Linked DNA regions of Homo sapiens. The protein of the gene in region 4 interacts with the protein of the main gene of each other region in a biochemical or structural test. Each region holds a gene or a part of one and is shown on either strand. Other genes may lie near its edges. The genes, in order: RNF216, UBE3A, UBR5 and UBE2L3.

Region 1 (7,931 bases), on a different chromosome or scaffold from region 4:
TTTGTATGTGTCTGTTAGGTCTATAGTGTTGTTCAAGTCAGCTGTTTCCTTACTAATCTTCTGCCTGGTGGTGCTAACAATGATTGAAAGTGAGGTATTGCAATCTCCTACTATTTTTGTGTTATTTTTCCCTTCGGCTGTCAATATTTGCTTCACATATTTGGGTGCACTGATGTCGGGTGCATATACAGATGGTCTCCAACTTACAATGGTTTTACACTTTTTGACTTTACTGTGGTGTGAAAGTGATACACATTCAGTAGAAACTGTAATTCAAGTACCCATACAATCATTCTCTTTTTCACTTTCAGTACAGTACTCAATAAATTACATGAGATACTCATACTTTATTCTAAAATAGGCTTCCTGCAAGAAGATTTTGCTAAATCGTAGGCTAATATAAGTGCTCAGGCTTTTGTTTTCCTTTTTTCAGGAGCTTGCAAGCTCTTGCTTCTTCTGGTGCCTGTCTGAGGTATCACAGGCCCTCTGGAGCTGCTGTAAGCTGCCCAGCTCTTTTTTGGCCTCAGCAGCTCCAAGGCATCTAGAGTAGGTTGGGTTCTGCCAGCAGTGAGTTGGGTGAGACAGAAGCCAGTCCCTCAGGCAGCCCCTTGAGAAGCCCAAATGCTGAACACATGCTCTACTCTTCCCCTGGACCCAAAAAGCAGCCTTCGAGGTGCACTGGACTCTGCCTACTGTACCGTGGGTCCTCTGGCGCAGTACAAACCACCCAGCTTTCTCTTGTTCTCAGCAGCCCCCAGGGACCTAGACCATGCCAGGTCCCATCAGTGCTTCATCGAGTGAGACAGGAACGAGAGTCTTGGGCAGACTCCAGAAAACCTAGAATGCTGGACTCATGCTCCAACTCCTTCCCTCCCGAGAAGAGCAGGGAGAGGGCAATGAGGAGTCAGTACGTGCTAGTTTCACCATCCCATTTGTCCTCAGAGGTCCCCAACCTGGTGCCCTTTCCTGTGAGACAAGACAGAAACCAGTCCCTTGAGCAGCCTCCTGAAAGGTCTGAATATTAGATATATGTTCCAGTCTTCTTTTTCCTCCCCAGAAAGATGCCAGGAGTTGGGAGCTTCCTCCCAATCACATGGTGCTGTGCCAGGGGGAGGAACTCTGGAGAGCCAGCGTCACAAATTCCCCAGCCTTTGATGCAACTGGTTTCTGGATTTCTCACAGAGAGAAATGGTCCTTCCGTTGTTGTTGAACTGTTCTCTCTATGGGAAAAAGAGGGTCTGGAGCTTTCTCTTCTGTCATCTTGACACTACCCCACACCACATGCCTTTACGGCTTTTTCTGCAAGTGATCTAACTACTCACATGTTTCACTGACCACAAGAAGCTACATGGCTACCTTCAAGTTCAGCAGGCCATGTATATTCCTCCCATAGACAAACAAAAACATATGTGGTGTTCCTATTTGGGATCTTAAGAGCCCCTGGGAAGCTCCCACCAACATGCCAAGTTGATACTCACTAGATGCTGTTCCAGACTCATGTGTGCCCTCAGGCTTTTATTTTTTAAATTTTTTTCTTTTAAAGACAGAGTCTTAGTCTGTTGTCCAGGCTAGAGTGCAGTGGCGCAATCATGGCTCAGTGCAGCCTCAATCTCCTGGGCTCAACTGATTGTCCTGCCTCAGTCTCTTAAGTAGCTAGGACTATGGGCACACACCACCATGCCTAGCTGAGTTTTAAAATTTTTTTTGTAGAGATAGGGTCTATGTTGCTCAGGCTGGTCTCGGACTCCTAGTCTCAAGAGATCCTCCTGCCTCAGCCTCTCAAAGTGCTGGGATTACAGGCATGAGCCACTGGGCAACCAATGCAGCTGCTTTTAAATGTCTTCAGGCTGGGGGTGGTGGCTTACACCTGTAATACCAGCACTTTGGAAGGCTGAGGTGGGCGGATCACTGGAGGCCAGGAGTTCAGGACCAGCCTGGCCAACATGGTGAAACCTCATCTCTACTAAAAATATAAAAATCAGTCAGGCGTGGTGGCGCATACCTGTGATCCCAGCTACTTGGGAGGCTGAGGCAGGAGAACTGCTTGAAGCCAGGAGGCGGAGGTTGCAGTGAGCTGAGATCGTGCCACTGCACTCCAGCCTGGGCAACAGAGTGAGACCCTGCCTCAAAACTTAAAAACAAAAACAAAAACAAAAAACGTCCTCAGAGAATAATGGTCTCTCCTCTTCTTTGGCCTTCCCAATTGTACATAAGCACTTTCACTGGCAGACCTTCTTTGAAACCTTACCAGGAAATGTAGTTCCCAGCTCCTTCTAAGCAACTCATGAAGACCCAAGAGGCTGTGCAGTGCTGTACATTTCTCACCTGGACTACTCAATAGGCAAGTAGACTTTCCTTATATTTTATCTCTCCCCACCTCAGGACAGTGTGCTGCATGGGCCTGCCCCTACTCAGCTTATGAGCCTCCTTCACACTCCTAGCACCAGTAAGCGTCCACATTGCTGCCACTCCCGGGGCCTAGAACATTTCTCCATCTCCACTCCACTCCCACCCTTTCCATCCTTTGGCTACTTCCTCCTTATCTGCTGCATCTTAGCGTAGGCATCACCTCCCCAGGCAGTCCAACACCTGACCCACTGGAAGCACACAAGGGACACGCTAGCACTCTGCTTTCTTAAGAGCTGCAAGATGCCAGCGACTGTTGTGACAATTGTTATAGCAACAGCCTGGGGTGCGAACATATAAAATGGCCAGAAATATTAATGCTGAAAACAAAAGAAATAAAGTTTTGATCCATTAGTTTAGTTTATTCTTCCTTTTCTAATCTCTACCTTAATTTCTTTACTCTCCCCAAGGCAAAGATATTGCAGTGTTCAACTCTAATCATGCAATTTTAGAAAAATGGCTTAGAGCGTATTTGTCTAGGTGGATGCTAATATTCACTAAAAACTCTAAGTGGCTTCTAAATAGCTGAAAGATTTTAAGACATTCTTAGTTCACAGGGCGCCAAGTTAAAGGGAACAAAGATCTGCAACAGTAATGCACCTAGACAGCTCTGCTCCCACGTAATATAGTCAGTTCTCATGAGGAGAAACAGTCAAATAAATAACCTACCAGATGTGATGGAGATGCCACTAAGATGCCCAGTTCCTCAATCAAAGAAGCGTCGTTTGGACTTTGAAAATGGCAAAAGGTGTGTGTGTGGGGAGGGAGGGGTAGCAGGGGCTATTTGAGCACAGGTGGTGAAGAGAGCAAGCAAGAAAAATGTTGACACAGTGGAAGAAAAACTAAACACTTCCCACTTTACATTATAGTATCTGTCCTAAAGAAGATGATATAAAATAGGAATCCAGAGCTTTGTAACTGGAGTGGCAAGAGTGGCTGCCATCTCAGTAACCATGTCAACCGTTACTCACAAAGTACTCGTCCTCATTTGCTTATGAAAAGGAAAGCACTCAAATCCTTCTTATACATCAGCAGTCAGGTAAACAGCAGATATTTGGGCCATGAGGGCAGCCCATAATACCATAATTCAATATACATCTAGAAAAAAATGTGCCTCCCTACCTTTCGGCAGTGAGGATTAGGACAGCTGAACCTCTTCACATCACTGTCCAACAGAGCCGGAAAGCTACAGGACGGGCACCTAGAGTCAGAACAGCAGAACTGACATTACTTCAAACATTAAAGCCTGATCTGGTTCCAGCTCCATGTGGCTGTTCATATGAAGATGGAGTTTTGAGCTGGACATTCACATCCCCTTTATACTCCTTAGTTTTCCTTAAAAACACAGATTGAACCTCTTCTTTGTGCTGGCTCTTATCAGGAAACATAAGCACCACATGAGGTCCTGACTGAATATAAACCACTCAATAAACACGTCCCAACCTTAATGAGAACTCCTTGCATATACCGATTTCCCTCCAGCCCAGGGCACCATGATTGTATCTACGGGCCAGAAGATTTGGGGGTGCCAAGATATGTAGACAGAAGTTTGAGCTACAGTCTGGGCGCGGTGGCTCACGCCTGTAGTCCCAGCACTTTGGGAGGCTGAGGTGGGTGGATCATTTGAGGTCAGGAGTTGGAGACCAGCCTGGCCAACATGGCAAAACCTCGTCTCTACTAAAAATAAGCTGGAATGTGGTGGTGCACGCCTGTAATCCAGGCTACTCAGGAGGCTGAGGCATGAGAATTGCTTGAACTCAGGAGGCGGAGGTTGTAGTGAGCCAAGATTGCACCACTGTACTCCAGCCTGGGCGACAGAGCGAGAATCCACCTCAAAAAAAAAAAAAGAAGTTTGAGGGGCAGATTTTTCCATTAATAGAATTACTGGTTACTCAATGGTTCTGAGGCGTAAAAAATAAAAATAAATAAGTAAAATTATTGATAATCTTATTTCTCAGCAAGAAATGTCAAAAAACCTGGAAGATAAACACAATTTTCATCATCTGATGCAAGTGCCCAGGTAGTTTTCACAATGGGGAAGAGTTGGCAGATGGCACGCTCTGCCTGAGAACGAACCTGACAAGCTCGTCGGCGTAGGCTGCCGCAACCTCCTCCTCGGCTTTTCGCTCATAGTACTTATACAGGATGGTCTGGGGGAGCACCTTCTCCAGCTCACTGGTTGGGAACGAACACGTGCAGCTGCCTTCCATGCAGCTGAGCTCCAACTAGAAAAAGGCGAAAAGGCAAAGAAAAAAAAATCAATACCATTTATAGAAAAATAAAAAGCGTCAGTGGTTAAAAACATAGATCCTGAGACAACATAGCAAGGATCTCTCTGCCTGTTCATCTCTGAGAAATCACACTTAAATCATGGAAACCATGAAACAAAAATCCAGTACATCTTTGATATCACTAAAGGACCTCTATTAGCCCAAATCACAATCCACAAAGACTGAAAGTGGCGGAAGGGCAAATGGCTTAGCAGACCACACACAGAAGCCCATAGCTTAGGGTCTGAAAAGGAGATGCTGGGGAGAAGTTGTTCCCCTCTACAGATATTAGAAAGCTGGAGAACCTCTGGAAAGCAGAGCTGAGTGGTGGGGAGGGGCAGGGACTCAAAGTAATAAACTGAAAACAGGGACATGGGTGGAGCCTCTAGTTCCTACCCGCTTCAGAAGGAATTGGCTGACTCTGAGAGAAATGAGGAAGATCTCCTGAACAGCTGGACCACACGGCTCTGGACTGGAAACCACTCATAGAGGAGAGCAGAGCTGAGGGGTGGCCTGAAGTCAGAGTCTGAAATGGAGTCTGCATAATGAACAGAGAACTCTCCAGACCTTTCCTCCCCCTCAGTTTCAGAATGTTGGAAAATGGGCTCACACCCACCAGGCAGGAGGCAGACTGAATCACCCCAGGTAAGAGACTTCAGAGCCATTCAGGTTCATAATATAAAAGCTAACTGGCTCCTATGCACCTAGAGTCAAACTCACTGGTCTATAAGCCCCACTACTCACACAGCTTTCAAACAGCTCTTTAACATGAACAAAAAGTGTCAGACATGAGGAATGCTTCCCACATGAAAGACAAACACCAAAGAAAACAAATGGAAAAAGACGACATTTTAAAAATAACTAGCTAAAATTTATGAGGCATTTACCATGTGTCAAACAATAAGTTCATTAAACTCATCACCTCATTTAGCTTTCAAAACAATGCTATGATTATTTCCATTTTACAGAGGAAGAAACAGTGGCTTAAGGAATTTAAATTGCTCAAGATCACAGGGCTAGTATGGCTGATGGGGGCATGGCCCAATGCATTCTGCTTGACTCCAAAGGTCACGCTCTTTGAAAAAACATAAACTTTATTTATTTATTTTTCTGAGACAGAGTCTCGCCCTGTCACCAAGGCTGGAGTGCAGTGGTGCGATCTCAGCTCACTAAGCCTCCCGAGTAGCTGGATTACAGGCACCCACCACCACACCTGGCTAATTTTTGTATTTTTAGCAGAGATGGGGTTTCACCATGTTGGCCAGGCTAGTCTCGAACTCCTAATCTTGTGATCCACCCAACTTAGCCTCCCAAAGTGCTGGGATTACAGGCATAAGCCACAGCGCCTGGCCTATTTTTCTTTTTTAGAGATGGAGTTTCACTCTTGTTGCCCAGGCTGGAGTGCAATGGCACGATCTCAACTCACCACAACCTCTGCCTCCCAGATTCAACCAATTCTCCTGCCTCAGCCTCCCCAGTAGCTGAGATTATAGGCATGCGCCACCAGGTCTGGCTAATCTTGTATTTTTAGTAGAGATGGGGTTTCTCCATGTTGGTCAGGCTGGTCTTGAACTCCTGACCTCAGGTGATCCGCCTACCTCGGCCTCCCAAAGTGCTGGGATTACAGGCGTGAGCCACCCGGGCAAAAAGTCATCTTCTTAATCACTGTGTTAGTTTTCTATTGCTGCTGGAACAAAATACCACAAACTCGGTGGTGTAAAACAATGTAAAATTCCCATACTGTGTTTGTTATGCTGGTGTCCAGAGAAACTCACTTTGGAGAGAGAAATATGATCTTGTGTAAAGTAAGTTATGTTATTTTAATATATATTTAATCCAATAGGCTGCAAGGTTCTCTCTTTCTGAGGTAACCTTCCCTCTGAATACAAATAAGATGATGAACGAAGGAGGTGCTCCTCTGCGGCTAGGCGTGGGAGTGTGGAAGAATTCTACTGTGCCCTGAAAAGAAATCTGCTGTGCTCAGAGAACCCACATAATCACATACATCAGGTAATGTACACATAAGCATACCAGCAGAACTCCACCTCACCCTCAAAGAGGCACTTACACTTATCTATCAACATGGTCTCCTTAGACTCCAGGAATGTGTCCTATATACATGGGACATATTACACAGTTCTTACCTTTCCAGATCCAAAGACTGCCTCTTGGGCATATCTGATGAGACACTCTTTGCAGAACAAGTGAGCATCTGCGCACTGCGTCAGCTCCTCGAATGGAAATTCCCCATAGCAGCAGCGACACTCAATCAGCTGGCCATCCTGCAGGCAGTCAAGAAACACACATGAAATGTCCTGCACTTAAGGAGAGGGGGAGCCTTGTCTCCCATCCTCATCTCTCTGCCACCCCCCACACAAATTCTGAGGTAAAGCAACCCATTTTAGGGGCCATAAAACAATGATATGCTGTTTCGTGCTATATAAATCTAGCTCAAGATACTAACACAGTATTAATCCATACCTAAAACAGCGAGGTTTTCGTGTTTTTTTTCTGGTATTCTTTAGAGTAATTCTTTATATAAAGTTATCATATTCAATCCCATGGTGCAAAGGGAACTAGAACATCTGTACTCAGATGCTAATGTGATTATAAACAGCAAGGATAAGGAGTATGAGAGATGTTACCCAAAAAACTTTCAAAAGTTGAATTTTGTTCTTGTCATAAGGAGTGTGAATGGGTCTATCGAGGTCTGCGCTTTATTTTAAGGGACTATTGAAGCTATAACTAAAGCAGCAACCTCAAGTAATGTACCAGGCTATTGACTCCTTTTATTAACTATAGCAACGGATCCAATCACCAACTCATTCTTTTTTTTTTTTTTTTTTTTTTTGAGATGGAGTCTCACTCTGTTGCCCGAACTGGAGTGCAGTGGCACGATCTTGGCTCACTGCAACCTCCACCTCCCAGGTTCAAGCGATTCTCCTGCTTCAGCCTCCCGAGTAGTGGGGATTACAGGCACCCGCCACTATGCCCAGCTAATTTTTTGTATTTTTAGTAGAGACGGGGTTTCACCACGTTGACCAGGCTGGTCTCAAACCCCTGACCTCGTGATGTGCCTGCCTTGGCCTTCCGAAGTGCTGGGATTACAGGAGTGAGCCACTGCATCCAGCCCCATTCTTTTATTTATTTATTTTTAATTTTTATTAGAAATGGGGTGCTGCTATGTTGACCAGGTTAGTCTCAAACTCCTGGGCTCAAGCAATCCTCCCATTTTGGCCTCTCAAAGTGCTGGAA
Region 2 (7,931 bases), on a different chromosome or scaffold from region 4:
CGTTTTTTTGAGATGGAATCTCACTCTGTTGCCCAGGCTGGAGTGCAGTGGCACGATCTAGGCTCACTGCAACCTCCGCCTCCCAGGTTCAAGCGATTCTCCTGCCTCAGCCTCCCGAGGAGCTGGGATTACAGCTGCCTGCCACCAAACCCAGCTAATTTTTGTATTTTTAGTAGAGACGGGGTTTCCCCCATGTTTGCCAGGCTGGTCTCAAACTCCTGGCTTCCGGTGATCTGCCCGCCTCGGGCGTTTTTGCATGTATTTTTTCAGGTGCTGAAAAAGCTCTCCCTGATTTCATTTCTTGTTGACTGCTTAGAGACATCTTTCCAAATGTCCTTCCTTGTCACTTTTTCAAAGTTAGGAGCAGGGATTGCACGTTTTTTTGATTGGTAATTTTTGTTTCAAAGGTTTGATTCAGATTCAGAGTTGATTTTGCTAGGTATGGTGGCTCACGCCTGTAATCCCAGCACTTTGGGAGGCCGAGGCGGGCGGATCACCAGAGGTCAGGAGTTTGAGACCAGCCTGGCCAACATGGCAAAACCCTTATCTCTACTAAAAATACAAACATTAGCCAGGTGTAGTGGTGTGCACCTGTAACCCCAGCTACTCAGGAGGCTGAGGCAGGAGAATCACTTGAACCCAGGAAGCGGAGGTTGCAGTGAACTGAGACTGCGCCACTGCACTCCAGCCTCAGTGACAGAGCAAGACTGTTTAAACAAACAAACAAAAAATTAACAAAATCTTATTTCTAGTGGTTTACATATTAATGATGCTGGCAACTTTTAGTTGAAATGTATTAAACAGCCTCGCAGTTTTTATTTTTATGAATTCTGCATACAATAAATAAATACCAACCAAAATATCTATACAGGCATACCCCAGAGATACTGCCGGTTCAGTTTCAGACCATGGCAAATAAAGTGATTATGGCAGTAAAGTGAGTCACACAAATTTTTTTGTTTCCCAGTGCTTATAAAAGTTACGTTTACATTATACTGTAGTCAAGTGTGTAACAGCATTGTCTAAAAATAAGTACATTATCTTAATTTAAAATCATTGCTAAAAATGCTAATGAAGTGAGCACATTTTGTTGGAAAAATGGTGCTGGTAGACCTGCTTGATGCAGGGTTGCCACCAAAAAAACTCAGTATCTGCAAAGTGCAATAAAGTGAGATACGCCTGTAATGTCTTTTTTCTCTTCTGTTATTACAAGCACTACTTTAAGTCTTCAACTACCGAATACTTGTAGACTATTTAATGAATTAATATTTTCATCATATTTATATTGAGAAAATTAAGAAGCTGAATTTAGTTAGAAAAGGTTTAGAATATCATCAACTCTTGAGGATGAGTTGGAAGCTACTTTATCTGTCATTTTTCACATAACACTAGTTTGCCCTTCAAATCATACATTTAAAAATGATCTTAAGATACATACCAAGTAGGGATTATGTTGTTATAAAAAGCTAGAAGTAAAATTAAGACTTTAATTTCAAAGATAATTTCTCTATAAAGAATAGCACAAGATATGTTCAACTATTCTCAGAGATGCATCAAGATATGACTTTTTTTCCTACTAGAAATTATATCTATGATCAATCATATTACAGAGATATTGCTGTTATACTCCTTGTGACTGATGAGGGGGGTTTTTCCTATCACCATGTTATCCCAACCCTTTAATGAATCACCTTTGAAACTCAGAACAGGTAGCAGCACAGAGGTTGCTAAGAGTAAATACATTCACCACTGCTGCCAGAAATGACCAACGGTGCACCAGAAAGAAGAAATACTGGTGAATTCCCACATACCACGACGAACAACCTTATAAAATAACAGAACAAATGAATATAAAGTAACATACAGCCATCCCTTGGTATATGTGACAGGGATTGGTTCCAGGACCACGTGTGTATACCAAAATCCATGCACGCTCAAGTTCTGCAGTTGGCCCTGTGAAACTGGCATGTATGAAAGTCAGCCCTCTGTATATGCAGGTTCTGAGTCCCACCAATACTGAATCTGCTCTTAGTTGAGAAAAAAAATCTGCATGTCAGAGGGCCCATGAAGTTCACAGCTGTGTTGTTCAAGGGTCAACTGTAATATAAAAATAACATTTATTGCTAGATAGAGTTGATATTCATTCTAGTGTTTATATACTTGAGTCTTAGAGCAATAGCCTTTGGAGACAACTTCCAGGAAGGTACGTGTTTGCATGCCTTCTCACTGCAATCCATCAGTAGCTGCCACTTGAACCAGTCTTAGCAGGGGATGGGGAAGCCTATGTCTTTCAGAATTGGATGATGTAGTACACAGAAGTAGACAGTAGAGTAGTAAGGGCATTTGCTTAAAAGCAGATAGAACTGGGAACCTCTACATCTTTCTGTGAGAATTCAGGGCTTAGTTTTTTAGGGTGTAAAATGGAAATACTAGTATGTATCTGGACATATTATCTTAAGAATTAAATAAAAGACTACCATTTCACTCAAAAAGTGCTTGATCCTGGGAAGCCATGTAACAGTTCACAAATGCAGAGTTCAAAAGAAAGGAAAAATTGCAGACATGGTAGCCTTATTTTAATTATCTTCTAACCAGCAGTAAGCATACTCTAACCAGTGAGGAATACTAGATAATCCATACGCCAAATGCAGGAGATTACATGAGACTTATATATAACAACACTTCATTCATGAAATAAATCACAAGATTAGCTCTGAAAAATGGTGATTATATTACAAATACAAATCTAAGTATATAGATGACAATTTGTGAGTTTGCTTATTTGGGAATTAGTACCTAGAGATAAAGGTCTGAAGCAAAATCACACACCCCTTTGGTGAATCAAATCTTCCTCTGAAGAACTAAGTACCTCACCTAATCAGAACAGAGTCCCTGGTATAGCCACCGTCATATTCTGTAGTTTCTTCTAGTGCTTGGAAATCTAGATTCTGCAAATTCAAGAAAATATGTCTTAGTTATCTGCTATACTACTGTATCATTACAAACAATAAATCGATACATGACTTTTTGCAGACACCTGCTTTCTTACCCGGCTTCCACATATAAGCAATTCAATTTCTTCTGGTCTGAATAAGTACTTTAAGGGAGATTCATTGGTCACCATATGAAAACCTCTCCGAAAAGCCTTGAACTGTTTTTCTACTGATTTATTGAGAATGTAGTCAGAATAAAGATTGACAAATTCCTGTAGAAAACATTAATCACAAGAACTTCTTATAATATGCTATGCAAACAAAACACAAGTTATTGGGCTGCATAGCTTTTTAATTTTTCCAAGAAAAAAACATTCAAGAATATTCTTAAAAATTCAATTTTACACCTACTTCTTAACAATTTCACAATTCTCTGTTATAGCCAATATTAAGCTATGAAAAGGCCATATACATAAAACTGTCAAGAATATTCTTAAAAATTCAATTTTACACCTACAAAGAAAACTACTTCTTACAATTTCACAATTCTCTGTTACAGCCAATATTAAGCTATGAAAAGGCCATATACACAAAACTGTCATACTTATAAATGTCAATTTCGATAATGTATTAAACAGAACTGAATATAAATGCTGGAGACGCAGAAAATTCTTTAGGTTCTCTCAACTAGGTATGTAAACAGACACATTTAAACCATGTATCCATCTATTTATAAATGCCAACCGTTTTAAGAGAGTACAATATATTTGATTTAAGCAAACCAGGAAGTCCCAAGTTTTCTACCATAGAATATTTGGTAAGCTGCCTACTGTATCCAGTTCAGCAAAAATGTGGAAGTACTGACTGACACATAAACTACTGTATCAAATCATAAAAGGAAAATGTGCTTTGTACCCTTAGTGTGTATAATATTTAATCAAAAAATTATATCAATATAAACATGTTTCTTAAAGGTATACTATATATTTGTCATAATTTTTTGCTTGTTATGTTCTGGGTTATTCCCATTCCCGATGAACACATTTTAGTCAATAGAAACCCAAATCTGACGTAAAGTATACTTTTCAGAAATGTATTTTTATCACAAACAGGATATACATGTGTAAATTAAATGTAATTTTTATTTGTTCTGTGATAAAGACCTTAATCATGAGGTTCCTGCTTACAGCTTAATACAAGAAACACCCTGCTTCTTGCTTTATACTACAACCACACTTAGCTATTAACTATCTCCTGCTTCATGTCCTCTTTCTCTAAAAGGGGCTTTAGTGCCCAACTGTGTGCTTTCATACCAACTTATATCCAAGATTTAGAAAAGTGGACTCTAGCATTTACATAAACTTAGTTACTTGTTTTTTTTTTGTACAGACTATATTAGATACTTCTTTAAAAATTATAAGCATACATGCTTTGAAAGTGTTAATGAAGAGACAAAATGTGACATAAAAACATTTATTACCTTCCTGTTTTCATTTGTAATTGGAATTTTATCACCATTTTCCTTTAGATCATACATCATTGGGTTACCAAAAAGATCTGTCTGTGATATCTGGAAAGTGATCATCATGTCATCTTCCACATTCCCTTCATACTCCAATAAATCTTTTAAACTCTGATATAGAACCTAGCAACCAGAAATGGTAAATTGAGGCCACCATAGAACTACAAAATACAACAAATAATTTATATCACTCTTCTTAGAAGACAACAAAAATCTTATCAATAAAAATTGTAAAAAGTGTAGACAGTATCCCTCCAGTCCCCCAAATAGTTTCCAACCTATAAAAGAAAGATTGTCAGTCACTGTGATGTCCCATTCTCTGCTGAGAAACCCCATACCACCAATTTAGCAATAGAATTCACACTGTGCTCTATGAGAAATTCTGTGGTGTCTCAAGGTGGGGGTGGGGGTGGTAGGAGCAGGCACACTCGTTGTAACTACCAAGACCCTTAGCCAGGGCTACTCTGATTTTTACCTATCTCTTAAGATTTCACTAAAACACAAACAAAATGTTTAGAAACACTTCTCTATGAAATCAATCTTACAAAAGCTTCGTGCTGACAGCAATATATAAAAATGTCCCCCTTTGAGTTTTTAAGTGTTTCTGGTACTTCGGTCAGATTAAAACATTTTTATCTTATTGATAAGAGTATCAACAAAGATTCTAAACAAAAACTTTAAAATTTTGACATAAATTAAATTTTTGCATTTAAATAAAATCTAAGAGACTGAATTAAAAAAATGACAAAGAACTTACTGGGTGAGAGTCTCCCAAGTCACGAAAAGTTCCTTTTTTCCCCATTAGCTTCCTGTAGACAACCATGGGAAAATGTACATCCAGTATACAGTTATTGTAAATAGCCAGACCCAGTACTATGCCAATCAGAGTAAACTGACCCTCAGTTTCAAAAGAAGATGGATTAAACCAAAACAATTTTGTAGATTCATCGTATGTGAACATACCTATAAGAAATGATTTTTAAAAATACATTACTTTTGTATTTTATTAAGGACTGATGAATAATACAAATATAAACTTAAAATAATTATGCATATAAAACATTTAAAATATATGTAATTAGGCATGCAACATTGATTTCTATTATATTAGCACTTGAGAAAACAATGTCCACATATATCTGCTATAAATTGGGGTGAATGGTGATATGTAATTTTATGAAGCCAAAGGAATAAAGTAGTAAGTAATTTGGTGGCATCGGGTAGAAAAATACGTTAATTAAATTCAAGCTTTCTAATTTTCTACTAACACATAAGAAAAGTTATATTCATGCTTTATCCACCCATAGCTGAAAAATAAACATAAAAAAACAAAAAATGGCTACATTTCCAAAGTGTTTCATTTATAAAAATATAATTACTTATATCTGTACCACACGTACTATTTTTGAAAACAATTTTTCATTTTTTTCCTTGAGATGGAGTCTCGCTCTGTTACCCAGGGTGGGCTGGAGTGGCACGATCTCAGCTCACTGCAACCTCTGCCTCCTAGGTTCAAACAATTCTCCTGCCTCAGCCTCCTGAGTAGCTAGGACTACAGGTGTGCACCACCACGCCAGCTAATTTTTGTATTTTTAGTAGAGAAGGGGTTTCACCATGTTTGCCAGGATGGTCTCAACCTCTTGACCTCGTGATCTGCCAGCCTCAGCCTCCCAAAGTGCTGGGATTACAGGCGTGAGCCACCACACCTGGCCTAAAAAACAATTTTTAATCACAGTAAAGAAAGGTTCGTTTTTTCAAAATTAGACAATGGTGCCATGAAATTTTTCTAGCATTTTCCTAATAAAATCAGATGATCTGAAATACATAAACCTGGATAAATCTGATGAACTTAGATAAACAAAGCTATTCAATACACATGTTAATTATGGGCCAATACGTAAAAGAAAAGTAGTTTCGTAGTCTTTCAATTTCACATGGTCTTCACTATGCAAGCCCCAATCATGGAGGCTTTTTTTTTTTTTTTTTTTTTTGAGACGGTCTCGCTCTGTCGCCCAAGCTGGAGTGCAGCAGCACTCAGCTTAGTGCAAGCTCCGCCTCCCGGGTTCATGCCATTCTCTGGCCTCAGCCTCCGGAGTAGTTGGGACTACAGGCGCCTGCGTGGAGGCCTTTTTTATATCACTCATTGGAAAATTGGGGCCCGGTGTGGTAGTTCACACCTGTAATCCCAGCACTTTGGGGAGGCTGAGGCAGGCAGATCACTTGAGCTCAGGAGTTCAAGACCAGCCTGGGCAAGATGGAGAAACCCCATCTCTACAAAAACACAAAAAATAAGCTGGGTGTGGTAGCATGTGCCTATAGTCTCAGCTACTTGAGAGGGTGATGCATGGGGATGGTTTGAGTCTTCAGCCTGGGAGGTGGAGGTTGCAGTGAGCCGAGACAGAACCACTACACTCCAGCCTGGGCCTCAGAGCCAGATCCTGCCTCCCTCCACCAAAAAATAAAAGATTAAAAAAAAGGAAAATTGGAATCTTTGGAATGAGTACTACTAAAAATTGATTTCTTCCCTTTTAAATGACTAAGGAAAAAAATTTTAATTGAATTTAAATCATTTTACTACATGTTTAGTTGCTACTGTGAAACAATGAAAACATCTTAAGAATTAAGTCTGAAAAAAATCTGTAATTTCCAATAGAAAAGTAGAGCTTAGAAATCAGAAATCAAATTATACAGTATATAAGTATTTTAACCTGTTTATAAGAATTTTAAAATCTTTGAAAATGTCATTGTCACTTTAAGTTTAAAAATAAGGAGCTTTAACATGTTTCCTTGATCACTAGGAGTATGAATTAAGCTTAGGACATTTTCTGAATGCAAAATGGTTTGAAAATTAAACAATTCATATTTGAGTTTCATGGTTTCTATCTAAACATTTTTTTTACAGGCCAAGTTACAACATCCATGGAAATGCTTTTAGTTATAAGTATGGTATTAACAGGATCAAGAACAGCTGACAAATAATTACAATTAATAAATTTGTTCAAGCTGACAATGGTGTGTCTAAAAAATTAATGAATTTAATAAAATGTCACAAATGCCCTTCCTTGGAACCAAGAGCAACAAGCTATAAGTTAATCAGAATATAACTCTGAAGTTCCATTTTAGGCACATTTTCTCATGTTCCAGGGAGAAAAGCACCATAACCTCCTGGTAAAATACTCCTTTTTGATACTTCTACTGCCATCACTTCAGTTATCTTACTGGAACTGCTTAATCTATGTTTTTTCTTACAAGTATTTCTGCATATAATGCAAGTATGCTTTATAGCTAAGGTTTAACATTTCTAGATACATCAAAAGCTAGAGCTAAGGTTTACCAAATTTAAGAACTTTATGAAGTTTATAATTTTCTATCTCAAAAAGGGCGTCGTCTTATGTATCTCTGATTTACTTAGAACAAACTACATACAAATGGCATAGCTTTTTAGTTATTAATAAAACACTAGCTAGATTATAGAT
Region 3 (7,931 bases), on a different chromosome or scaffold from region 4:
TCAATATTAAAACATAAAAGCACTGTGTGAAGCCACAACTAATGAGTATTTCTTTTTTAAAACAAACATCCTAGAACAAACATCCACAAGAACTATAGGCCCCTCAAAGTGGTTACTTTAAGAAGTTATGCAGTTAGTATGTATAATACTGCCAAAACAGACTAGGTATAGTGGCTAATGCCTGTAATCCCAATGTTTTGGGAGGCTGAGGTGGGAGGATTGCTTGAGGACAGGAATTTAAGACCGACCTGGGCAACACAGCGAGACCCAAACGCTACAAAAAATTTAAAAAGAGTAATTTAAAAATACCAATACATAAAACGTATTACAGTTGAACATCCCTTACCTGAAATGCTTGGGACCAGAAGTGTTTTGATCTTGGGTTTTTTTTTTTTTTTTTAAATTTTGGAGTATCTGCATTATATATATTTATCAGTTGAGCATCCTCAATCCCAAAATCCAAAATGCTCCAATGAGCATTTCCTCTGAGCATCATGTTGGTGCTCAGAAAGTTTCCGGTTTTGCAGCATTTCAGATTTCTCATTTTCAGATTAGGAATACTCAACCTGTGTAACTCCCCAGTTAGTGTGACTTCAACTTTTTTCCCAACAGACTTGCTGGCACAATGAAGCACAACAGTCCTGAAGCCTAGTCTAAAAAGCCCCGTTAATACACTACTAAGTTTTGGGGACTTCTAGTTCCAGCAATTTGGCAGACTGTGCAGAGAAACCACTCTTGTTAAGGAACACATATATATGCTAGATATTAAAAAAAAAAAAAAAAAAAAGGACAGCTGTGCAGGTGATAAAGAGAAACGACTGTACTGTATAAAGCTTGGAGAGACAAGTGCCACCATTTATCCCAAAGGGACCCACTGATGTCTCTTGGGCTAGAAGGGCTTCAAGGAACCACAGATTTCACATGAGAGTCTGGAGGCTAAGCAAAGAATAGAAAGTCATCACAGGAATCTCCTCTTCTGTCCCCCTCACATATATAAAGCTAAACATAAATCTTAAAAGGGCAACACCATGAAGGAGTGAAACAGAAAAATCATACCTCGAGAGATTTACCTATCTCAGCCATGAATAGATGCAGAATGGAAAAAGGTCTCTTTTGAGAACTTCTAACTACAAGTCTGCATTTTGGAGAGTTTTGGACTGCACTCTACACTATAAAGCCTGGTTCAGTGTTGGTTAACTGTGTGGTGGCTCAACACTATGAGCAAGCACCAAGTAGTCTTCCTCTCTACTCTGCCATCTACTATTCAGGAGAATACAAAAAAAAAAGGAAGTATCTGTCAAGGTAAGTCCAGCGTCTAAACTTTAATTAGCTGTGTTACACTGGAGAAGTTGCCTAACTTTTCTGAGCCGTAGTTTCCCCATTTGACAAACTAGAATGATAGTGGTTATCTATGACATATTGGGAAAATTAAAACAGGTAATCTGTCTACAATACTTAGGAAAGTTCCTAGTACATACTAAAATTTCAGTAACTGTTAGTTACTGTTATATGAGAGACATGGAAATAAAGTAGAAACAGATTATTTATTAAGAACATAACAAGAACATTTTCAAGAGGTGGAAAGAAGCAACAGAAAAAGCTACTCTTAAGACTTCACACTCAATGGGGTGATATACACCTTCTATAATCCAAGACAAGTGAAATCCCAGAGAATGGTCAAGGTCTGTGTTTTTCAACTTAAGACATCCTTGGAACACTAGTCAAAATACACCCTTTATGGGTAAGAATGTACTGTACTATAATAAAGAACTTTTAACAGTTGAAGAAAACATTAGCACTATTTCTTGATTATCACATGAGATCTCCTTCTGGGAAGATTTAGGAAGTTGTCTCAAGAAACAAGCAAAGGGAATGGAATAAAGAGAGTTTAAGAGTATGTAATACTTTAATAATGAGACTAAGAACAAGATGACACAAAATCTTGAAACTTAGTAGGAACAGTTTCAAGGGCAGTGTTTAGAGATGAGACGATCCCAAAATCTGTTCAACAGCCATCAATTTTTTATGTTCCAGAACAAGATCAAGGGAAGTATACTAAGAATTCACAAAGTAATACCACTTAAGTAACTAATGAGTTCCTCACAGGGTATCAAGATCAGGAAAATCATACAGAGTCCAAGCAGATCTCACAAGCAGAATTATTTAATCATGGGATAGATTTGACAAGTCTGAAGATACACAGCTTGATTTGTAACAGTTTTCAACAAGTCCTGGATGTATATCAGTATCAAGGATACTATGGGAGAGCTCTGTCAGACAAAACTGGATTTAGATTAAAGGGACACCTGACATTAAAGGAAAAATTGGGACACATATACTGGCATATAGGAGAATAGTGAGAGCAGATACTCAACACCAACCCAGATCAAATCCAAGCGTAACAACTTGGGAACTATCCCAAACACTAAAGCAGGCCATCCTTATTAACAGAGATGTTTTCCAGAAAAGGAGGAAAAGGGTCTTTAGATCCTAAAGGTCCTTATTAAAACATCATCACACATGCACATGGTTATAAAATCAGACTTGAAAAAACAAAATACACTAAATATTTGCCAAAGATCTACAGCATTATTACTGAAAAGTCTGACCCCTAAACCAGCAGAATTGGCATCACCTGAGAACTTGAAAGGCATACGAAGTTGGAGGCCCCACCTCAAGACCTCTAGAGTGGGCATCTATATTTTAATAAGAGCCCCAAGTCATTTTCATACATATTAAAGTTTGAGAAGCAGTGTGCTAAAGGACATCGGAAAGTTTTAAGTTGCTCAACATCCTGATTCAACAAGCTTACAGTGTAATTAGGGAAACTATCAAACAAATAGAAAAGATAAATGAAACTTAAGAACAAATAATCTTATAATTAGAAACATTTATAATGGAGTTATTTTAGCCCTGTCCTTGATAATACAGTTGTTGTAGAAAAATATTTAAAATTCCGGCTTTCTGGTTGTTATTTATGTTACACAAATGATCATGTACACCACCTGAGTGCTTATGCAAAGGTTTTAGGAAGTCAAACACGACATTTCCAGAGAAGGATTAATCAGAATCTGTTACCTGGTAGCAATTTACCTGCTAGACTGATCAGATGATGGTCGTGGTGGTAGTGGTTCCACTGAAAATAATTCTTCACTGCCCTGCATGGCATCTATGCTAGTACTAGCCAGGGTAAATGGTGCAGTTGGACGAGCAATCCCCATTCTGACAGGAACAATCAGTGACTCTGCTACGTTGCACAATTCTTCCACAGCGTAAGGTAGCAATGCTTGGAATACACGCTTGCATTTTCCAATTGGCTGTGGAATAAAGTTGCTAGAACAAAAAGAGAAATATCAGCAATCTATCTTTTCATATACATAAATCACTATCACAAAAACAGAGTGAAAATGGTATCTAAACCAAAATCAAAAAGGATGCCTTACTTTTTCTTTTTGGATGAAGCCATTTCCACACTCAGAATAACAAAAACTCTTGCCACTGAACGTAGAAACCTCATTGTCACAGCAATAGCTTCTTCTCTACGTCCAGGTGTATATTTGTTTTGGAGTTCTTTCACTAGTGTACCTAGTAGAGTATCTAAAAGCTTTAAAAAATTATATTCACTCTATTAATGTTAAGATACTTCATAAGATGTTTAGACATTCATAAAGTTATAAGTTCTAACATTTTTTAAGTATTAACATTTTATAATAAAATCTCAAAACAAATTTAACCAAAACATTTACAAGGTCAGTTTATGAAATATACCTGCCAATGTGCTTGACATACAGTGAGTCCTAAATGTACGATTTCTTATTTTTTGTCCCACAGTCCTTGGTATATCAACTAATATTTAGAAGAACAATACCAAATATATGAAATCAGAAGAAGAAAACATAAACTCAGTCTGGGGCACTTTCCAAAACAGCAAAGCAGACTCAAATATTTATATGAATAAATTCATAATCCCATCTCCCTCATGGAACCATTATTACTTTCTAGTCTCTTTTCTGTGTGCAGCTTCTTGTATAAATGTTAGCTACAGAGAACACCCAATTTTCACAGTTTGGTTGTTTGGTTTTTTTTTTTACGTTATTTACAATACGATTTATTTTTAAATTGCTGCATCATATTCCAGTAAGTGGTCAGGCTATAATTTGATTCAAGATTACACTAGTATTAGGCTGATATTTTTCTGTTTTTAAATTTTACATTATTCTGTGACATGCCTTTATTTTTCTCACATCGTAAATTATTTATTTATGACAGGTTCTGAGGGCACTGATAGTTTTATGTTTTCCAGAGAAAGGAACGATGCAATGCCACCCCATCCCTATCTGAGTGTGTTATTACCATAACCTCATTCGCACTGGATCTTAAGGTTTAAATTCTTTTCTAGTTTCACAGCAAAGAAGAGTACTTGAAAAACATACTTTTCATGTACTTGTAATACACATTCAAAGAACTTACCAAAATATCTGCTGTACACTTAACTATAAGGCAATGAGTGAAACAGTCCAGCCGAATTGTGCCACTTTGCTGATTGAGGTATACTTGCTCTTCTGGCAAAAGATGGCCTATTCTACTGCTGGCACTAAGACTTGAGGAGAAACGAAAGACAGAATGAACTGTAAAAGGTCTACACTAACGTAGGAAATACATAAATCTAAAAAGGTTTTAATGAATACGTACGGGTCTTTATTCTCCTGCGACCCAAACATAATCATAGATTTCAAGGCATTCCAGTCCTGTAGAACACGCTCCAATGCAAGCTGGGCAAATCTTGGAGGCTCTAAATCATGATCTGGCATATCTGAATCTAAAATGAAAAAGAAATAGTGACCAAAACAAAAATAAAACATATTGCTTCCCACAAGTGTCATAAATGTCTAATTAACTCACCTTCAGGACTGGCTGTTTTTCGGTTACGATCTTCCCTGATTCGAGGTGGCCTGTATTGACAATGCTCCACCGTCTGCCTTGCGACTGTCTGTACTAAGAATAGTAAGAGGTGCTCTCCCCTGCAAAACAGAATGTTGTCGTGAGGAGGGAGGCTGAAAAGCTACTCAGCTGTGCTGCGCTCTTTTGATTTAACTTACTGTATGTTCTAAAAATCCCACTTGCCTGCTGTTTGGCAGAGTAACCAGATTAGTAGCAGTGAGCAGGCGATAAAGTAGATCAAGACGAGCAGATTTCTGTCCAGCAATAAGAGTTTTACATTTACATTTCTCCCAACAATCACAGTAGGCTGTTGGTGATGTCCGTTTGAGTCTATAGAGAATTTATACACAAGTACAAAAACTGAAATTTTTTAAACATACAAAGGTTTATGTTGACATTATGAAGGTATAACTCACTGAAACCAGAGAGAGCCCTTGTTAATTTCTAAATGCAAAGTATAACTGTCAAAGCTTATATAACAAGAAGGATTACTTGGTAGTAATGACATCTATAAAGCAACACAGAATTCCTATGAGAAGAGGTACTCTAAGGTACAATCACTTTTGGAATCTCTTCCCTAATTCCCAGTCCTGTTCAAGTGGTCCTCCTATATGACCTAATGAACCCTGTAACCCTATGGGCAGATATTTCTTGCTTCTGATAGGGATGTGAACACTGTCAGGACTATTCACCACCACCCTGGCATCTAGTACACTTGGAAAACAATCAATAACAACAGATTATCACACCTTTAGGTACTTAAAATAAGGAAAACAAAAAATACCAACCAGAATTCTTTTAATATCTATTAAAATTTTTCATTTGTCCTATACAATTACTTAATGGTACGGTAGATGGTTTTTACAGTCCAATTCTCTATTATAACATTTGTAGCCATTTATACTGAAGTCCCTATCCATAATCCTAAAACACCACAGATGTTAGTGCTAGGTATTTCATTGCTTCTCAGGTCTCTGAAAACCAACAGAACTAGCTGTGGTAACTGTTGCTGAATGAAAGACTGTTGCATTTAGTTTAAGACACAGTCTAAACATTCACCATGATTCCCTCTAGGCCTATGGCAATTTTCTCCTAGTATACCCCACTACAGGGGACCTGAGACCTCCGCTGCATAATACACTCAGGAACATTCTGTAGATATACTTCTCAAAAGACTAATCTGATCCTAGTTACAATGTATAATCACCTACTTTTATTTAAGGAGGGCAATGTTTGAACTAGCAAAGAAACCAAACATTTCACAGTATACTTTAAATCAAGAATCACACTATTATACATAAACTGACTTAAACAAGGGAAACGTAAGTAACCTCATGCTTTCTGAAGTAAAACATGACTTAGTACAGATTATTTCCATACAGCAATATAAATCTAAACAGCTTATAATATTAAACTAAAGAAAACTAGAATTGTACTCACTTGCAATCATGACCTTTATGACAAACCCTTGCACATTCCGTACAACAACACAGTGACTCCAGCAAGCCACAAGTTCGACACTCAAAAATATCCTAAAATTAAGAGTGTACTTTTAAAGGAATAATTATAAGTATGCATATATCTCATCATAATAATTATTTCTGGTATTTTCTAGAACAATTCAATCTCAACAAACAAAATTAATGTGCTTTGGAAAACTAGAACTTATAAAGGGCTACAGCAAATATACAGTTTATGATATACAAATAGAAATATTACCAGTAGAAAAAAATAATTTGTATCATCCCCAAAAAGGCATTGTAGTTATAAAATCTGTATCAAGATTTGTGGATCAGATTATACTACCCAGTGAAAATTTCCAATTTTCATGGTATGCCATATTTAACTGAGCAATCAGCTCTTTTGCCTCATTTACTTAGGAATTAAATCAACTTTCTTCATATCAGACTTAATTCCAAAGCTGAAAACTGTAAGTCTAGTGATAGTCATAGCGAAAAAAGACACAAAGATATGATTAATACAGGAAAATGTAGAAATAACTTACCTGGTTAATGTGCTCTGCTCCAGTCCATGTAAAACTGCAAGTGTCATTACAACATAAAACATATAAAGGAGAGTCATCAGGGTTGGTACCTGATGGGCAAACCATTCCCATGAATACATCTTCCTCTTTTTCACTTGAGGATATTTCAGCTAAAAAAGTAAGAACATAGCAGTTCATCTTTCAGGAAAGGACTTAATTAGCCATCCATTTTCTTCAACTGGAAAGCCTTAGCATACACACAATATAAACCAGAAATTATATATCAATTTTAAAAAGTGATATACAAAGATGACATGCAAAGAAATCTAACCAACTCTGGAACAATATAAAGTAAAGCATAATTACATCATACCCACATATGATGCCAATACAAACACACTATACATCAGCCATCTGAATCCTTAGCTCTGTTTCAGGCAGTTAAGACTCAACTCCTGGCTCTATTTAGCAAATTATAGACCATCTCATAAACTATTTATCAGTGTTTTAAAAAGATAACTACTTTAATCTTTCAAAGGCTGGAAGGTAAGAATTGATATTCCTTAATGCTTTCTATTTAGCAGGAATTCTGTCAGAAATAACAAGACATCTGTCTATTATTCTGTAAAGTTATATCACTTAACACCAATTAACTACCAAGAGGTTCTATCAGTAATCCATCTTATTTTCCAAAGATTTTACACTGTTCATTACGGAGTGTTTATTCTTAAATCAATAAATTTATATCAGCTGTTTTTTGATGGAAAGTTGGAAGATACAGTAAACTTGAAGGAATAATAAACACATGAATTTCATACACACACAAATCTTGATCATTTCCAACCAATTGTATCATTTACATATATAGAAATCCAGTCTGAATAATTATAATATATGGACAGAAGAGAATCTATCCAAACTGAATGTAACTCATTTAGGATCTGAAATAAATTACCTTTTGCAATTTTCTGAGCAGTTTCTAAGATGGTAATTGCAGCAGGATAAG
Region 4 (7,931 bases):
TGCTTGAACCCAGGAGGTAGAGGCTGTAGTGAGCTGAGATCACACCACTGCACTCCAGCCTGGGAGACAGAGTGACTCTGTCTCAAAAAAAAAAGAAATGGAACTAGGCGGGTGGGGGCATGGTGGCTCATGCTTGTAATTCCAGCACTTTGGGAGGCTGAGGCAGGAGGATCGCTTGAGCCCAGGAGTTTGAGACCAGCCTGGGCAACACAGGGAGAACCCATTTATTATTATTATTATTTTAATAAAATAGAGACGGGGTCCTGCTATATTGCCCAAGCTGGTTTTGAACTCCTAGGCTCAATCGATCCTTCCACCCCAGCCTCCCAACATGCTGGGAATATAGGTGTGAGCCACTGCACCCAGCCCCCATCTCTATTTATTTAAAAAAAAAAAAAAAAAAGGAAAGGGAAAGGGAGAAGGAAAGGGAACTAGAAATCAATAACAGAACTAGAAAACTCACAATTATGGGGAAATTAAACGTACTCTCTAACAAGCAATGGGTCAAAGAAGAAATCACAAGGGAAATTAGAAAATATCCTCAGAAAAAAAAATGACATACCAAAACTTAAGTTATGCAGCAAAAGTAGTGCTCAAAGGGAATCTACAGCTTTAAATACCTACATTGAAAAAGCAAGTCTGAAATCAATAATCTAACTGGATATTTTAAGGAACAAAGAAAGTAATAACACAAGAAAGAAGTAAATAGTAAGCACAGAGGAGATAAATGAAAAACACACACACACACATTAATGAAACCTTCCTTGAAGAGATCAACAAAATTGAAAAAACTTTAGCTAGACTGATAAAAGGAAAAAGAGAAAAGACTCATATTATTAAAATAAGAAATGAGGCAGGGCATAGTGGTGTAATCCCAGCACTTTGGGAGGCTAAGGCAGGCGGATCACTTGAGTCTAGGAGTTCAAGACCAGCCTGTGCAATATGGCAAAACCCCATCTCTACAAAAAAAAAAAAAAAAATACAAAAATTAGCTGGGCGTGGTGGCTCATGCCTTCAGTACCAGCTACTCTGGAGGCTGAGGTGGGAGGATCGCTTGAGCCTGGGAGGTTGAGGCTGTGGTGAGCCATGATCATGCCACTGTACTCCAGCCTGGGCAACAGAACGAGAGCCTGTCTCAAAAAAAAAAAAAAAAAAAAAAAAAAAAAAAATCTACATATAAATGGATCAAAGATCCAAATTTAAGAGCTAAAACTATAAAACTCTTAGAAGAAAACTCAGGAAAATTTGCATGACCTTGGATTTGGCAACAGTGTCTTAAAAATCAAACCAAAGTATAGGCAACAAAATTAAAAATAGATAAATTGGACTTCTTTATTAAAAATTTAAGGCCAGGTGTGATGGCTCACATCTGTAAATCCCAGAGCTTTCAGAGGCTAAGCCAGGAGGACCACTTGAGCCTGGGAGTTCAAGACTAGCCTGGGCAACACAGCAAGACTCCATCTCTACAGAAAAAATAATTAAAATTAGCTGGGGGTTGCAGCATGTGCCTATAGTGCCAGCTACTTGGGAAGACTGCTTGAGCCCAGGAGTCTGGGGCTGCAGAGAGCCATTATTGAGCCACTGCACTCCAGCCTGGATGACAGAGCAAGACCCCTTCTCTAAAAATAAAAATTAAATTAAAAAATTTAAAACTTTAGTGCATCAGGCCAGGCACGGTGGCTCAAGCCTGTAATCCCAGCACTTTGGTAGGCTGAGGCGGACAGATCACTTGAGGTCAGGAGTTCGAGACCAGCCTGGCCAACATGGTAAAACCCTGTCTCTACCAAAAAATACAAAAATTAGCCAGGTGTGGTGGTGCACGCCTATAGTCCCAGCTACTCGGGAGGCTGAGGTGGGAGAATCACTTGAACCCGGGAGGCAGAGGTTGCAGTGAGACGAGACTGTGCTTCTGCATTCTGGCCTGGGCAACAGAGTGAGACCCTGTCTCAAAAAGAAACAAAAAAACAAAAAACACACCATGCAAAAACATGTTCTACATCCTTAGTATGAAGAAAACAGAAATCAAAACCACAATGAGACAGCACTACATACCAACTAGAATGGCTGTAACGTAAAAACAAAAAAAAAGTAAAATAACAAATGTTAGCAAGGATGTGGATGAACTGGAACCTTTGTAGTGGAAATTTAAGACGTTACAGGATGGGCGCAATGGCTTATGCCTATAATCCCAGCACTTTGAGAGGCTGAGATGGGTGGATCACCTGAGGTCGGGAGTTCGAGACCAGCCTGACCAACATGGAGAAACCCAGTCTCTACTAAAAGTACAAAAATTAGCCAAAATTGCTTGAACCCGGGAGATGGAGGTTGCAGAGAGCCGAGATCGCATAACTGCACTCCCCAGCCTGGGCAACAGAGCAAGGCTCTGTCTCAAAAACAAGAACAAAAATTAGCTGGGCATGGTGGTGCACACCTGCAATCCCAGCTACTCGGGAGGCTGATGTATAAGCATCACTTGAACCCAGGAGGCTGAGGTTGCAGTGAACCAAAATCACACCATTGCACTCCAGCCTGGGTGACAGAGTAAGACTGTCTCAAAAAATAAAATAAAATGGAATAAAATAAAAAGAAATTGGCTGGGTGTGGTGGCACACACCTGTAGTCCTGGCTACTCAGGAGGATTGCTTGAGCCCAGAAATTCAAGGCTGCAATGGGCCATGATCACACCACTGCACCCTAGCCTGGGTGACAGCACAAAACCCTGCCTCAAAAAACCAAAACATTATTATGAAGTTATGAAATGGTTTATTAAAAACTGCATGAAGGCCAGCGTGGTGGCTCACGCTTGTAATCCCAGCACTTTGGGAGACTGAGGAGGGTGGATCACAAGGTCAAGAGACTGAGACCATCCTGGCCAACATGGTGAAACCCCGTCTTTACTAAAAATACAAAAATTAGCGGGGTGTGGTGGTGCGCACCTGTAGTCCCAGCTACTTGGGAGGCTGAGGCAGGAGAATCGCTTGAACCCGGGAGGCGGAGGTTGCAGTGAGCCGAGATCGTGCCACTGCATAGCGACAGAGCGAGACTCCAACTCAATTAAAAAGAAAAAAAAGAAACTGCATGAAAAAAGGCTGAGAGGAAGTATGCTGAAGGTTAAGAGTAAACACATTCACTGGGCTAGAAGCTTCAAGAAGGGTGACTACCACACCTCTAGTTCCTAAAGGGCAGTACACAAAATGTAACTGAATTTCTTGATGATGTGATTATGGGTAATATTTTCTTCCTTAGACGTTACCTTAGCATCTTAGATGAAAAAAAATTACAGAAAAACAAATGTTTAAAGGGAATAGACCAGAGTTGCGTTGGCAACAATGAAGTCTCTAGGAAGTACCTCCCCAGCCTTCCCTCCCACCTGCCCTCCTCTGTGCACTACGACCAGGGCAATCGCTAGGTGGCTACCCAAGGACAGCACCACTCTCCACTAAGGACCAGGGCTGGGCTGCCATGCCTTCATCGGCCTGGCTCTACTTTTACCCCAACTGGGCAGACCTCAGGTGAGTTTGTATAGTAGATTCCCATGCTGGCCCAGCCCGTCCAATGCAGGAAGACCTAAAGCCCAGGTTGGGGTACAAGTGTGGACCCTGGGGATGTCAGATGTCAACAATGCCTTAACTGCTCTGGAGAAGGAAGAAGACTTCATTGAAACATTCCTCATACAAACCCAGGGGCCCTGGAAGAAAGCAAGGGAGAGGACCGAGAAGAAGTGGTATACACAGGGACAAGAGCAGCCCTGGCTGTTGCTTACCGTCTCCAAGGTGAAACTTTGGCCTGGATAGCTCCCCAGAGCCTCAGCCCAAGCACACTTGGATTCTACCAGCCAGCCTCCACCTTTGCCCTAGTAAGATCTTAGCCCACTGCTCCATAGCCCCTGCCAGCGTGAAACCAGAGGGAGGCCTTTGCATGAGTTGGGGCAGAGCATGCCCAGCAGCAATCTACCCGTGGAGCTGGCTAGCAGGCTCTCAGGCCACTAAATTCTCAGGGCCAGACTGCCCAAGCCTTACCACTTAAAACCATTCCATTCATTTTTATCATTTTCCAAAGAGCCACAGATTAACTGTTCATTTCTTTGCTCAGTAGACTACACAATCTCAATTAGAAAAGGGACAAGAGGTCAGATGGTCCCGGCCATCTTCAGGTCCCTAGAGTAGGCAAGGGCTGCACTCACAGGCCAACCCCTCCCATGCAGAGGTGTCTCTGCCACCCACACCCTTTGCCCTGAGCCCTAACACCATCAAGCCTAAAGAAATCTAAAGGACTCATCTTCAAAATCAGACTGGAAGCTCCCAGATTTAAACATTCTGAGCATACTAAATCATTACAAAGCATATCTTTCCTTAGTTATCCAAATGATTATGGAAATAAACTACAAATCCAATAACTGCTGATCAAATTCAGGGACTTAAAAAAAAAAAAGCATGACCTTATAACCAGCATCAAGAAGAAAGCATCTACAGGAGGGAGCATGCTCCATGCTCACCTTATAACCAGCATCAAGAAGAAAGCATCTACAGGAGGAAGCATGCTCCATGCTCACCTTATAACCAGCATCAGGAAGAAAGCATCTACAGGGAGAAATCATCTACAGGAGGAAGCATCTACAGGAGGAAGCATGCTCCATGCTCATGACCTTATAACCAGCATCAGGAAGAAGCATCTACAGGAGGAAGCATGCTCCATGCTCTGCTTTGGCAAAGCAGCCAATCCATCCATGAGAACAAATTATATACAGGACAGCGGCAGGCACAGGGCAAGGGCCAGAGGCTCAGATGTGCAAAGTGGGAATGAAAAGGAACAGAGAAGGTGAGTGGATGAGGAAGAACAGGAAAGGAGGGCACTCACGCAGGACAAGGGTGTGAGCTGAGGTAGCTGAAGGCTACACAATGACCAAGTGAGGCCGCCTGGTGGACAGATGGTGCAGCTTCCGGGGAGAAGGCAGGAATGGAGACAGGTGTGGGAATCCTTCATGTCTGGCATAATCATCTATGATGCCGAAAGTAGTAGGGTCCCGAGACAAAACAGAACAGGAGAACAGCAGGAGACCAACAAGAGTCATGTTTAAGAGTGAGGAGGAAGGAGTGGCAGAACAGGAGCGAGTGGCAGGCTGGTCACAGGACTGGGGGCTGGAATGCTGCCCGTGCTCCAAAAGCTCAGGAGGCAAGCAAGGGCCATGATGCCAGCACTGCCGAGCTAGAGGTGTGACAACAGTGGGGGCAGCCTGTGGGCTGGGTGTGACGTGGTTTCAGGAGAGTGAGAGGAAGGGGGATTGCAAACTGGAGTTAATTATAAGACAAGCCTCTTGAAGGGGAGGGGATCAAAGGATGCAGAAAAGAGTAGGCACTAAGAGGGTGCTAAGGAAAGCCATCGTTAGGAGGGCCTTGAGCCCATCAGAAGGCAGAAGACTGTGAGATGGGGGAGCTGGGCTGTGGGGGCAGACACTGGAGGCATAAGCCCCAGAAAAGACATGGGGTGAGGGGAACATGTGGGCAATTAGGAAAAGGGACTTGAGACAAATGGAAGGCACAGGTTGGAGGGGACCAGGAATAAAGCCCGAAATACAGGTATCCAAAGGGTTAGAGACATGAATGCAAAACCAAGAGAGAAAGCAAAATATCTAGAGGGGAATGCTTGTCCCCTCCTGAGGAGCTCAGAGAAGAAGGTCCTGCTGATCCATCAGGCCAGGCGCAGGGAAGTCAGGAAAGAGCAGGAGCACAGACACACTCCTTTTCTCTGTGTCTACAGATCTGCAAAGCTCAGGACTCCCTGAATTTGACAAAACGAGTGCCAAGATGTGACTCTACTCAGGACCCAAGGCTACACTCCCTACCTTATCACCCTAGAGCGACAGCCACTTCTGTGCATCTGCTGGCTGCCTAGACTAAGAGCCTACTAAGGAGCAGAAAAACAAGCCCAACAGCACACACATCACCTTAAAGAATAATCTGGTAGGAAGTGGAAGTGTTCAATACTCACAGGAACAATAAGCCCTTGCCAAGTCAATAAATTAGCTTCATCAACCTGGATGTTACGGAAGTTTTTCATCCCACATTTGCGGATTTCTTCAAGCTCCTGTTGATTGACAAAGCATAAAGGGGTGTCAAATAGGGGAAAGCACCACATATTAAGATCCCTCCTGATGCCCTCAAATTAAACCAAGTGCCAAAAATGCTAATGACAAAATTGGACAGTGAGGACTAAACTGTGCTTGGAGTGGTTAAGGAGGCATGGAGCTGCCATGGCGGTCCCCTCTGCAAGGTTGTTGCCTCTCCCCATGCCCCAGACCAAGACAAGCCCCCACCTCAGTGAACCCCCCTGAATAGGACAGGGGGAACCATGCTTCTGCAGACGTACCACCTCCTCTTTGGGTTGGTCACCATGGCTGTTTAAATCCCTCAGCACCCTGCATAGGGCAGACATGTGGCAGGAGCTATCCTGAGGTGCTCTACACCTGATACCTTCCAATCAAGATTCATTAAGCACTGATTATGCACCGGATGCTGAGAAGCTAAAGATGAATAAAACTGGGGACTGGGAACAAACCAGACACAAACGCATATCCAGTTTTCTACCCAGTGCTATAAGTGTGATTTCAGAAGGACTCCACCTCAACATGGGCACACAGCAAAGAGAACCATCCAGTCTGGGACTGGGGTGGGAGTGGGGGGGTGGGGACGGGAAACCTTCACTGAGCCTGTTTCCTCAGCTGCAAAACAGACCCAGAGTGCAGAAAAGGAAAGGGAAGCCATGTTGTGGGCAACAGGACCCCTTGCAAATATGTGGGGTTATTGTTGTATAAACAGTCAATGCAGCAAGTGCCATTTCACCCAGAAAGCACAACTTTACGACTTCAGGGTCCTGCCTGAGATGTCTTCAGAACTGTCTGTCACCTGTTTTTCAACTGTGCACCAGCCTGACATTTCCCATTGCCTCCAACATCTCAGTGAATGCCTGGCAGGCGCTATAACCCAAACCACCCAGCAATGCCCTCCTGCCAGAACACCAGCCTCGCCAACATTCCTCCACTCTGACACATGAAGTGCCACTCTACCCGCCTCAGCCCGGCCTCCCATCCAGTGGCACAAAAGCCGCCTCCACACCTGTCAGGCACCTTCTCTTCTGCAGCCCGAGCACCATCCAGCTGAGCCCTGCCTCCTTCGCCAGGCTGCTTCCTCTGGCCCAGCTCCAGCACCCTCCAGAACCTCCTTACGTGGTACTTCAACTCACAGTGGCTTGGGGGCTCCCTATCAGCCCCCACATCAAGCCCAAAAGATCCTTGCACCTCATACTTCCATCACACAGTGGTAGTTTAAAAGGCACCCTGAGGCTACACAGGCAGGGAAGGAAACAATTGGCAAGGAAGGGGGAACCGGAGCCCAGGTTACTGGTTCTGAGTAGGAAGATGTGCTGGGCGCCCGGCCCAGAGCAGCAGAGAGGGAGAGTGCAGTGAATGAATACACGGAAGAGGTGGAACACACTGGTGCTTCATAGCAGGCAACAGGCACAAGTTTCCCCCCACAGGGTGCTCCTGCCTGTCACCCTCATCTGCCCACCACAATCACCTGGACTTGGGCCCAGCCCCAGAAATTCTGGTCCAGCAAGTGTGGGTGGAGCCTGAACATAGGGATTTCTCACAGGCTATAGCTGTGGTGAGAGAAGAGGCACTGCTGGGAGCGATGATGGATCCATTTCTCCCTGAGGAGGCGTTAGCGGCATGGGCTGCAACCTCCTGCAGTGAGGAATGGGGTGGCCTGGCCCCTCTCCACCTGCATGAGGCCCCTCTTTCCCTGCATAAGGAGGTACGGAACCTGAGGGACCACTCCAACCTGCCAACTGCCACCTGGTCCTCCTGCTCACAAGACTCATAAGAAATGCTCCCCTGGGGATTATGAAGCCTGGGCAGACTCAGAAAGGGGAAG

The links.
Region 1: the proteins of UBE2L3 (region 4) and RNF216 form a complex in vitro, tested with the Homo sapiens proteins (5 studies listed by BioGRID).
Region 2: the proteins of UBE2L3 (region 4) and UBE3A form a complex in vitro, tested with the Homo sapiens proteins (32 studies listed by BioGRID and IntAct, with this or other methods).
Region 3: the proteins of UBE2L3 (region 4) and UBR5 form a complex in vitro, tested with the Homo sapiens proteins (6 studies listed by BioGRID).

The regions. Positions count from the first base shown.
Region 1 is NC_000007.14:5,708,233-5,716,163, forward strand, and holds part of RNF216 (E3 ubiquitin-protein ligase RNF216), read right to left. Parts: intron 6,959-7,931; coding exon 6,821-6,958; intron 4,632-6,820; coding exon 4,483-4,631; intron 3,679-4,482; exon of another isoform or gene 3,608-3,678; coding exon 3,529-3,607; intron 1-3,528.
Region 2 is NC_000015.10:25,351,479-25,359,409, forward strand, and holds part of UBE3A (ubiquitin-protein ligase E3A), read right to left. Parts: intron 5,419-7,931; coding exon 5,213-5,418; intron 4,579-5,212; coding exon 4,414-4,578; intron 3,206-4,413; coding exon 3,050-3,205; intron 2,949-3,049; coding exon 2,875-2,948; intron 1-2,874. UniProt on the Homo sapiens protein: E3 ubiquitin-protein ligase which accepts ubiquitin from an E2 ubiquitin-conjugating enzyme in the form of a thioester and transfers it to its substrates.
Region 3 is NC_000008.11:102,290,512-102,298,442, forward strand, and holds part of UBR5 (E3 ubiquitin-protein ligase UBR5), read right to left. Parts: coding exon 7,881-7,931; intron 7,096-7,880; coding exon 6,947-7,095; intron 6,474-6,946; coding exon 6,382-6,473; intron 5,272-6,381; coding exon 5,125-5,271; intron 5,022-5,124; coding exon 4,903-5,021; intron 4,820-4,902; coding exon 4,693-4,819; intron 4,601-4,692; coding exon 4,471-4,600; intron 3,605-4,470; coding exon 3,444-3,604; intron 3,334-3,443; coding exon 3,094-3,333; intron 1-3,093. UniProt on the Homo sapiens protein: E3 ubiquitin-protein ligase involved in different protein quality control pathways in the cytoplasm and nucleus. Mainly acts as a ubiquitin chain elongator that extends pre-ubiquitinated substrates.
Region 4 is NC_000022.11:21,591,014-21,598,944, reverse strand, and holds part of UBE2L3 (ubiquitin-conjugating enzyme E2 L3), read right to left. Parts: intron 6,085-7,931; coding exon 5,989-6,084; intron 1-5,988. UniProt on the Homo sapiens protein: Ubiquitin-conjugating enzyme E2 that specifically acts with HECT-type and RBR family E3 ubiquitin-protein ligases.